Linked DNA regions of Homo sapiens: region 1 is linked to region 2. The links come from fine-mapping of genetic effects on gene expression. Tissue or cell type: cerebellum. Region 2 holds a variant in brackets; the other region holds the start of a gene. All regions are shown on one strand. Distances are from middle to middle.

Region 1 (5,224 bases), 89 kb before region 2:
GAACAGATGATTTTGACACAGCTATATTTTATAAAATGAGGACAATACATAGAATAAAATATTAGGTAACATATATATTAAATTTGTTTACTATAACATTTATAGGTATTGATTATCAAAATATGGAAATGTAAATATTTGATTTTGTAAATACACTATAGAAGAAAGGTGAATCCATTGCTCCAGTTAGCAAAGTCCTCCTCCAAAAATGGAGAGTAGCCAACATAAACCATAGATTTTGATCTATAGTATTACGCATCCCAAAACAAAAGTGTATATTAAACGTACTTCCAAATAATTAGTGCAAATACAGCATAACATTAAAAAATAATAATTATACATAAAGCTATCAACTAAAAAAGAAATTATGAAAGAAAATTTAAGGAGACCAATTGAACTAATTGTTTTAAAATTGTTGGAAACAAGATTATTTATGACTCACATTGTCTGTAGAGGATGGACCCTGAGGAAGGCTGGGACTGAAGGCCATGAGGTCTGTCTTGGGTGGGCCCTCCCCAGAGCACACCCTCTGCCGCCTCTGCTGGGAGAATGACCAGCTCCCCACCGCGCTGGAGCACACCAGAGTGGGCTTTACCAAACTACATGCGCCCTCAGAGGACGGCGCTGAGCACCGCAACGCCGTGTACAGCAGCAGGGTAAGCACCAACAGACTGGACACCGCGCAGATGGCGATGATCAGGTACACGTTGACATCCACCAGCTCGGTCTCTGGGCCTGCAATGCCCAACGATGCCCGCGACGACGCCTTTGGTGCCTGGCCGCTTTCCACCAGCGACACCAGCACGGTGGCTGTGGCTGTCAGCGAGGGCTCCCCGTGGTCCTTCACAAGCACCAGAAGGCGGTGGCGCGGTGCGTCCGTCTCATCTAGGGCTCGTGTCGTGCTGATCTCACCAGTGTACAGCCCCACGCGGAACGGGATGCTCGCACCGGCCGCCACCGGTTGCAACTCATACGAAAGCCACGCGTTGTAGCCTGAGTCAGCGTCAACTGCACGTACCTTCGCCACCACATGGCCCGCGCCCACAGACCGCGGCACAAGCTCTCTCACTGCGCCACCAGTGCCACCCACCCGAGGCGCCAGCAGTGCCGGCGCGTTGTCGTTCTCGTCCAGCACGAACACCTGCAGCGTCACGTTGCTGCCCAGAGGCGGCACGCCCGCATCGCGCGCGCTCACCTGGAACTGCAACAGCTCCAGCTCCTCGTGGTCCAACGGCTGCAGCGCGTACACCTTGCCGCTCTCCGCGTGCACTGACACGTAGCTCGACAGCGCGCGCTCGCCCACCCGCAGCTCCACCAGCGAGTAGGACACCAGCGCGTTCTTCTGCGCGTCCGCGTCCCCCGCCGACACAGTGAAGATGTGGCAGCCCGGCGGGTTGTTCTCCTTCACGAACACCGTATACTCGGGCTGCGCGAACGCCGGGGCGTTGTCGTTCACGTCGGCCACCTCCACGGACACGCTAGCAGTGGCCCACAGAGAAGGCGAGCCCCCGTCCCGCGCGGTAACCACCAGCTCATAGGCGGACACACTCTCGCGGTCCAGAGCGCTGTCCAGCACCAATGAATAGTAATTCTTGAAGGTGGACACCAACTTGAAGGGAACGCGGGGCGTCAGGGAGCAGGTAACCTGTCCGTTGACTCCAAAATCTCGGTCAAACACGCTAATCAATGTGATGACGGTACCTGGTTGGGCGTCCTCTGGAATAGGGAGAGACAGGGAAGTGAGAGTCAACTGTGGAGCATTGTCATTTACATCCACAACTTCCACAAGAACTGTACAATGACCAGCCAGGGGTGGGAAGCCTTTATCGACAGCCTCGACTGGGATCTTGTGTGCTCTACTTTCTTCAAAATCCATATGTCCTATCACTGTGATTGCCCCACTTAAGGGGTCCATGTGGAACTTGGATTTTATATCTGGAGAAACATCACTGGAGAAGGAGTAAATAATATCCCCATTCAAGCCTTCGTCTAAATCTGAGGCATTGGGGTGAATCACCAGCGTTCCGATAGAAACGTTTTCTGGTAATTTCACCGTATACAGGGTTCTGTCGAACACTGGGGCATTGTCATTGTTGTCCAGTACCGTGATGAGTAATTGAACGGTGCCAGTCAGCTCGGGTTTGCCTCCATCGGTGGCCGTGAGCAATAAATGAAGCTCCGGAGTTTCTTCTCTGTCTAAAAGTTTCCGTAATACAAGTCCAAGAGGTTTTACCTGCTGGTTGCTGGTTGGCACGTCCAGGAAGAAATACTCATTGGGGCTCAGTCTGTAAGTGAGCAGGGCGTTCTCCCCGATATCTGCATCGGACGCGCCCTCTAGTGGAAACCGAGAGTCAAGCGGCCTGGATTCCGCGATGAACAGATTCCTTTGTGTCGCTGGGAACACCGGAGGGTTGTCGTTAATGTCCTTCACCTCCACGTCCACATGGAAAACCTGCAGCGGCCTTTCCACGATCACCTCCAGGTGGATGCTGCACTCCGCGCTCCGCCCGCACAGCTCCTCGCGGTCGATCCGAGAATTCACAAACAAAATGCCATTCTGCAGATTTACCTCCAGAAGATCCCCACGGAATTTGCACACCGCCCGGAACAGGCGCGGCACCAGCTCCGCCAGCTCCAGCCCCAGGTCCTGCGCGATGCGGCCCACGAAGTTGCCATGTTTAGCCTCCTCGGGGACCGAGTAGTGGAGCTGGCCTCTCCCTGCCTCCCAAGCTGCTAGAATTATAATAAACAGCAGTAGATGTCGGCCCCCTGGGTCGTATCCATTCGGGCACACCATTTCAAATTATTGGCTTGTTTTTCTAGTCAGCAAAACTTGCCTTCGAATTTATAGGAATGTTTTTATCCCTTCATTTCAATCTCGATGTGTGGCCATTGTTGTGCATCCAAAGAGTGAAAGAGAGTGGAGCGTCTTTCCAGTGCGAAAAGGAATGACTTCCTTTTGCTGATTACGAAAGAATTTGCGGTAAAGAGCGACATCATGTGGCCATCATGTAAGTAAGAATTACAAACCATTACAAACTATTAATCAGATGAAAAGTTTTATTTCAAACTCTGAATTTTTTTCTTCATTGTTGTTAAAGGTTAAAATAGCATTTCTCATGATTGTTAGAAGCATTCTTAGGCGACTGATGGCTTTTGAATACTCAGTGTTACCAGAACTGTAGCTTCCTCATGCCTTAGAAAAACTTTTTTTTCACACAGTTTTAAATAAAGATAGAAACCTAAGTGACAACATGAATTTAAACAACTGCAAGTTTAAATTCCTTTGATCTAGATCCCAGGAAACTTCATATTCTTGATTCAGTATCGCTTGTTAAGAAAAATCCTGTACTCTTTTAGGGACCCAGGATCTCAAGAATCTACTGATTGATGAAAGAGAAACTTAGAAAGCGGTGTGTGTGTGTGTGTTTTCTTTTTAGGAGGCAAGAAACATTAGCAACTATCCAGACACTTCTCTTGGGAAAACAAAATAAGAGAAGGTTTGGGGAATCTTTGAAGGGGAAGAATTTGTATCATGTGAACTTTTTGAGGAGGAAGTATTCTGAATTTTTTGCTTTAGCAGAATCTATATATACTGTTTCAGGAGTTCATCATTTTATATTTGTTTCCTCATTCTATCCTTTCGAACACTTGTGTGTTATGAATATATGCCTATTTTTACAATCTCAAATATGATTTGTATTATTTCTTTTAAAATGTAAGTTTATTTTATTAGATAAATTTCAGTGCTCAGCCATCTCACATACAGCAGCCCTTTGATCAAGTCTTGAGGTATTTCATCCTTTTTGGATCTACCTTACTGTGTTCGTTTTCTGGAATGTTTCACTCCAATGTTCCCAATGGCATGTAAAATAATTATGTCTGTATTCAGATGCTTTCCTAAATAAGTTTTTATAATTGCTGCTCTCCTGGTGTATTGCAGTAGCTTCTTATTGTGTAACCTGTCCATTCCTATTTCATTCTCCTTCATTTAATCCTTGCAGTCATCTTCCGTTAATACTTTTTATTCGTATTGCTTCACACTTTTTGACAGCTTTCAAATGACTTTGAAGAGTGTCAAAATTACTCGTCTAGTACTCAAAGTTATACAAAAGGTTTTTCTCATATTACTTTTCTTGCTTTATATCACACTCTCTCTTATGGGAACCATGTGCTTTACCCAAAGTGGACTATTCCTCATTTCTAGGTACATTTGGAATTTTCTGTATACTCACTTAAGTTACTCTCTTCTCATGAATACCTGTTAGTCTCCATATTCTCCCAGGGAAAACTCTTTCCATTTTATAACCAGTAAAACATCATGACTCTTCACGGTCTCCTTCAACAAGGGAAAAAGGCAAAGATTTTTTTCCAATTCCAATAACACTATGATGTACCTTTCTAGCACCTCTTACAATATTCTTGCTTTTACTATCATCGTATTTATGTAGGATACTTACCTTTATTTATCTATTAAATTTGAAGCCAGGTCTTGTTAATTCGATGATTCTCAGCAGGCACAGTGTGATACTCTTAAAGACCCTCCTAGGAACTTTTTAAAAAACATTTACTCACTAGCAACGCTATAGTTCTCTACTTCCTAAGAAAGTATGCTGTTTTGAGGCTGTTAGATATCATTAGCTACACAAATGGTGATCTTCAGTATAATCAGAGACAATTCTGCCACTCTTAAGTATGTAGAGTTAGTTTTTTTAAATTTTAGTGCAATATTAATTACACGCTTAAAAATTATCATGTACTTCTTTTAGAAAACAGAAAATACCACTACCAGTTTCTGCCATTTCAAGAATGGAAAATGCTCACATTAGGAAACACAAACCACAACTCAGTCCTCTAATGGCCCTTAAGCAACTTTTAAATGTGGGCAAATACACCATTCATGCTTAATGTAGTCTAATATTTCCTGGGAACATGGACAACACAAAAAGTCAAAACCAACTCCAGGAAATCACTGAGGACTCAGCAGGTTAAATGTCTTTTGAATTCATAAAACTTTTCCACTGTCCAAGTCTTAATTCAATTTTCAACTTTGAAACACACATTTTAAATTGCTTTTAATGTAGAACATGGCATTTAAAATGTTAGAGACATCTCAGATTAAATTGGTAATTATGGCCTCACTATGAATAACAAAAATTCAATCTTTACGTAAAATGAAAACAATATGGAATCCGTAATGAGAGTTTCCTAGCATAAAATGACA
Region 2 (5,224 bases):
GAGGCAGGAGGATCACTTGAGTCTGGGAGGTCAAGGCTGCAGTGAGCTGTGATCATGCCACTGCACTCCAGCCTGGAAACAGAATGAGACCCTGTCTTAAAAAAAAAAAAAAGTGAAAAAATAACAAATGCTGGTGAGATTGCAGAGAAGACAGAACACTTACACACTGTTGGTAGAAGTGTAAATTAGTTCAATCATTGTGGAAAACAGTGTAGTAATTCCTCAAAGAGCTAAAAACAGAACTACCATTTGACCCAGCAATCCCTTTACTGGGTATATACCCAAAGGAATATAAATTGTTCTATCATAAAGACACATGCATATTTACTGCAGAACTACTCACAATAGCAAAGACATGGAATCAACCTAAATGCTCATCAATGGTAGACTGGATAAAGAAAATGTAGTACATATACACACCATGGAATACTATGCAGCCATAAAAAACAATGAAATCATATTTTTGCAGGAACATGGATGGAGCTGGAGCCCATTATCCTTAGCAAACTTATGCAGGAATGGAGAATCAAATACTGCATGTTCCTACTTCTAAGTGGGAGCTAAATGATGAGAACATATGGGCACATAGAGGTGAACAAAAGACACCGGGATTTACAGGAGGAGGGAGAGGATCAGGAAAATTAACTAATGAGTTCTAGGCTTAATATCTGGGTGACGAAATAATCTGTACAATAAACCCCTGTGACAAAAGTTTGCCTACATAACAAACCTGCATTGTATCCCTGGACTTAAAATATAAGCTAAAAAAAGATGTTGTAAATTTATAGTATTGATAAATACAGTACAGTACTGTAAATGTATAAAACAAAAACAAAAAAGAAGAGCTTTAAACATATTATAACTTGCTTAATTTCATCCATAACAAGAATACAAATTAAAACCACATTGAGACATCATTTTTCATCAATCCGATGAACAAACATTTAGAAAAATTGACAATAGGCTCTATTAATAAGGTTGTGGAAAAGTAGGCATTCTCATGTATTGTTTGTAGGAGTGAAAAACATGGTAGAACCACAATGGAGGTAATTTGGCAATATCTTCAAAGAATGATGAATGCATTTGTCTTTTGAACTAGCAATTCCATCTTTAAAAATTTAAATATACACCTTCACAAATATTAAACATTATATACACCAAGTTATTTATTGTGACATCATTTATAATAAAATAACTGGAAAACAACCCAATGGTAATCAGCTGAGACTGAATGAAATATGATGAATCTACTGAACAGTGTCAATGGTGTACAATATAATTGTTAAAAAAAAATGAGAGGCCGGGCGCGGTGGCTCACTCCTGTAAACCCAGCACTTTGGGAGGCCGAGGAAAGCAATCACGAGCTCAGGAGTTCAAGACCACACCAGCCTGACCAAGATGGTGAACCCCGTCTCTACTAAAAATACAAAAATTAGCCGGGCATGGTGGTGCGCATCTGTAGTCCCAGCTACTTGGGAGGCTGAGGCAGAAGAATTGCTTGAACCCGGGAGGCAGAGGTTGCAGTGAGCCGAGATCACACCACTGCACTCCAGCCAGGGTGACAGAGAGAAACTCCCTCTCAACAACAACAACAACAAAAAGTCTTAGCCGGGCGCGGTGGCTCACACCAGTAATCCCAGCACTTTGGGAGGCCAAGGCAGGTGGATCACAACGTCAGGAGCTCGAGACAAGCCTGACCAACATGGTGATACCCTGTCTCTACTAAAAATACAAAAATTAGCCAGGCATGGTGGTGGGCGCCTGTAATCCCAGCTACTCAGGAGGCTGAGGCAGGAGAATTGCTTGAACCCAGGAGGCGGAGGTTGCAGTGAGCCAAGATGGTGCCACTGCACTCCAGCCTGGGCGACAGAGCGAGACTCCATCTAAAAAAAAAAAAATACTTAGGCCAGGCACGGTGGCTCATGCCTATAATCCCAGCACTTTGGGAGGCCGAGGCAGGCAGATCACGAGGTCAGGAGTTCAAGACCAGCCTGGCCAACATGGTGAAACCTTGTCTCTACTAAAGATACAAAAAATTAGCCAGGCATGGTGACGTGCACCTGTAATCCCAGCTACTCAGGAGGCTGAGGCAGGAGAGTTGCTTGATCCCGGGAGGTGGAGGTTGCAATGAGCCAAGGTCGCACCATTCCACTCCAGCGTGGGTGACAGGGCGAGATTCCATCTCAAAAAAAAAAAAAAAGTCTTATCTGAGATTCTTTATGGAACAGAGTTCCATCAAAACCAATTAAAAGAAGCCTATGTGGCAAATAATTATTCTTGCTGCACTTTAAACAAATAATTAGGCCAAGTATATTAAAGCAAATTGGTCTTACCATGATTTGTCTTTAGTAAAAATGGGAGACTGGAGAGAGAAAAAATATGTTTCAGGAACTATGGTACACCTTTTGTCAGATTTTAGTCTCATCAGTTGTTTTTGAGTTTTTTGTCTGCAATTTAGACTGCTTATTCCTGTAAACCAACCAGTGGTGTCTGGCTGATAGAAGAAACAAGAAGGATAGGTGATATAAAAATGTGGATCAATATTCTAATTCTG[G/A]GCATGTATTGAAATCAGCTAGTGACTCCATATTAGCTCAGTTCCAACAGTTGCCTAGCTTATGGAAAGCCTTCTTATTTAGTTTACTTGAGATAACTTTACTTATTTTGCTTTACTTTTGTGGAATATATTGGTGTTGTGCTCTTTGCATAGGAATGCAGAACAAGCTTACTCAATGTTTTCCCAAATTAAACACTTATTAATCTTCCAGATGTCACCTTTTATCAGTACTCAGGGTTATGAATGGTGCTTGACATACTGATGCTTTCTGATTGAGCTACTCTCTACCCTGAATACAAGAGACCCTAATAATTAGGCAGGAATATCATTGCCCCTATTCAGCCTGAAAAAGTTACAAAACATGGATCTTCATCCTGCTACAACCCTTAGGATTAAGAGTTTTCTTATAAAAGGGAGGGAGGGGCCAGGTGCAGTGGCTCACACCTATAATCCCAACACTTTGGGAGACTGAGGCCAGTGGATCACTTGCGGTCAGGAGTTCGAGACCAGCCTGACCAACGTGGTGAAACCCCGTCTCTACTAAAAATACAAAATTAGCTGGACATGGTGGCACACACCTGTAATTTCAGCTACTTGGGAGGCTGAGGCAGGAGAATCACTTGAACCTGAGAGGCAGAGGTTTCAGTGAGCTGAGATCATGCCATTGCACTCCAGCCTGGGCAAAAAGAGCAAAACTCTGTCTCCAAATTAAATAAATAAGTAAATAAATAAATGGGAGGGAGGAAGTCTGTCAGAGGCCTTTGAATCAGAGCAACTCCATCTTGAATGGAGGCTGGGTAAAATAGGGCTGAGACCTACTGGGTTGCATTCCCAGTCACATTCTAAGTCACAGGATGAGATAGGAGGTCGGCACAAGATACAGGTCACAAAGACCATGTTAATAAAGCAGCGTGTGGTAAAGAAGCCAGCCAAATCCCACCAAAACCAAGATGGCGAAGAACGTGACCTTTGGTCATCCTCACTGCTCATTATATACTAATTATAATGCATTAGCATGCTAAAAGACACTCCCACTAGTGCCATGACAGTTTACAAACGCCATGGTAACATCAGGAAGTTACTCTATATGGTCTAAAACTAGGAGAAACCCTCAGTTCTGGGAATTGCCCACCCCTTTTCCAGAAAACTCATGAATAATCCACCCCTTGTTTAGCATACAATCAAGAAATAGCCATAAAAATAGGCAACCAGCAGCCTTCGGGGCTGCTCAGCCTGGGGGATAGCCATTCTTTATTCCTTTACTTTCTTAGTAAACTTGCTTTCACCTAAAAAAAATACCCAACATCAATTATCATTAGAAAAATGCAAATTAAAACCATATAAATATCATCTCACACCAGAAAGAGAGGGAAAATAAGTGTTGGAAGGGGTGTGCAGAAATTGGAACCTTTGTGCACTATTAATGGGAATGTAAAATGGTGCAGCCTTTTTAGAAAACAGTAAGGCAGTTTCTCAGAAAATTAAAAATAGAATTACCGGCAGGGCACGGTGGCTCACGCTTGTAATCCCAGCACTTTGGGAGGCTGAGGCCAGTGGATCATGAGGTCAGGAGCTCGAGACCAGCCTGACTAACATGGTAAAATGCCATCTCTACTAAAAATACAAAAATTAGCTGGGCATGGTGGTGTGCGCCTGTAATACCAGCTACTAGGGAGGCTGAGGCAGGAGAATCGCTTGAACCCGGGAGGCGGAGGTCGCAGTGAGCGGAGATCATCCCATCACACTACAAAATGACAAATACTATATGATTCCACTGATATGAGGTCCCTAGAGTAGTCAGATTCACAGAGACAGAAAACAGAATGGTGGTTGTCAGGAGCTGGAGGATGGAAAATGGGAAGTTGTTGTTTAATGGGCATAGAGTTTCAGTTTTGCAAGAAGACAGCCCTGAAGATTGACTGCCCAACAATGTGAATGTGCCTAACATTACTGAACTGTACACTTAAAAATGGTTAAGATGGTAAATTTTATATTATGGATTTTACCACAGCTTTTTAAAATTATTTTAAAACTGGCTGTCACAAAAAGGAAAAGAATATCAGGTGAGATTGGTCTAGATTAAAGAGACTGGAGAGATGTCATGACAACTAAAAGCAATGCATGATCTATAATTGGTTCCTGACTTTAAAAAATATTATATATATATATATTATATATGTATATATGTATGAGTCCAATTGTCCAACCAAGTACCAAATGTCATTCTTCATTTCTTGCAGGCACTCACATTCTCCACAGAGGCCTACTGAATTCTTTCTCATCACATGGCTCCCTAGATGAAAGGAAAGGTCTCACACTGTGACAACCTTCCCCCAACCCACTATCAAGGATTCTGACAACTATCCCTTTCCCTAGTACCGTCTTTATACAAACTGGGGATTGGGGAAAGGTAAGGGGGTGATATCGTGATTGGTTATCAGAAAGCTGGCTTGGCCACTAACTCTTGGCAATCAGGTGGAAGCTACTCTTAGAATTACTTCTTTCTGTTTTCAGCATAGCTCAAATTCCTGGGCAAAAGAAAAACTCTTAACCAGATGGGGCAGCTCATGCCTGCAATCCCAACATTTTGGAAGGCCAAGGCGAGAGGATTGCTTGAGCTCAGGAGTTTGAGACTAACCTGGGCAACAGAGTGAGATGCCCTCTGTACAA

Which allele goes with the higher level. Positions count from the first base shown, and alleles are read on the strand shown. Sizes are in standard deviations (SD) of each study's normalised expression.
In carriers of allele A in region 2, the expression in cerebellum of the gene that starts at base 2,912 in region 1 tends to be lower than with G alone (small effect, 0.36 SD a copy in GTEx).

What was found. PIP is the estimated chance that this variant, and not a neighbour inherited with it, causes the effect.
Region 1: it holds the start of PCDHA7, and the variant in region 2 is the best candidate, but not a certain one, in a credible set for the expression of PCDHA7 in cerebellum (GTEx, PIP 0.61).

The regions. Positions count from the first base shown.
Region 1 is chr5:140,831,957-140,837,180 of GRCh38, reverse strand. It overlaps PCDHA7 (protocadherin alpha 7), which reads right to left and starts at 2,912. Exons shown (of 4, transcript NM_018910.3): 1 at 443-2,912. The coding sequence starts at 2,797. The region is part of intron 1 of PCDHA1 (protocadherin alpha 1); the gene reads right to left. All of the region lies in intron 1 of PCDHA2 (protocadherin alpha 2), which reads right to left. The region is part of intron 1 of PCDHA3 (protocadherin alpha 3); the gene reads right to left. It also overlaps PCDHA4, PCDHA5, PCDHA6 and PCDHA@. RefSeq lists an enhancer at 972-1,619.
Region 2 is chr5:140,742,681-140,747,904 of GRCh38, reverse strand. The region is part of intron 3 of LOC105378198 (a long non-coding RNA gene); the gene reads right to left. Among named protein-coding and RNA genes, the nearest start is that of PCDHA1, 41 kb to the left of the region's middle. The variant G/A (reference allele first, on the strand shown) is at 2,555.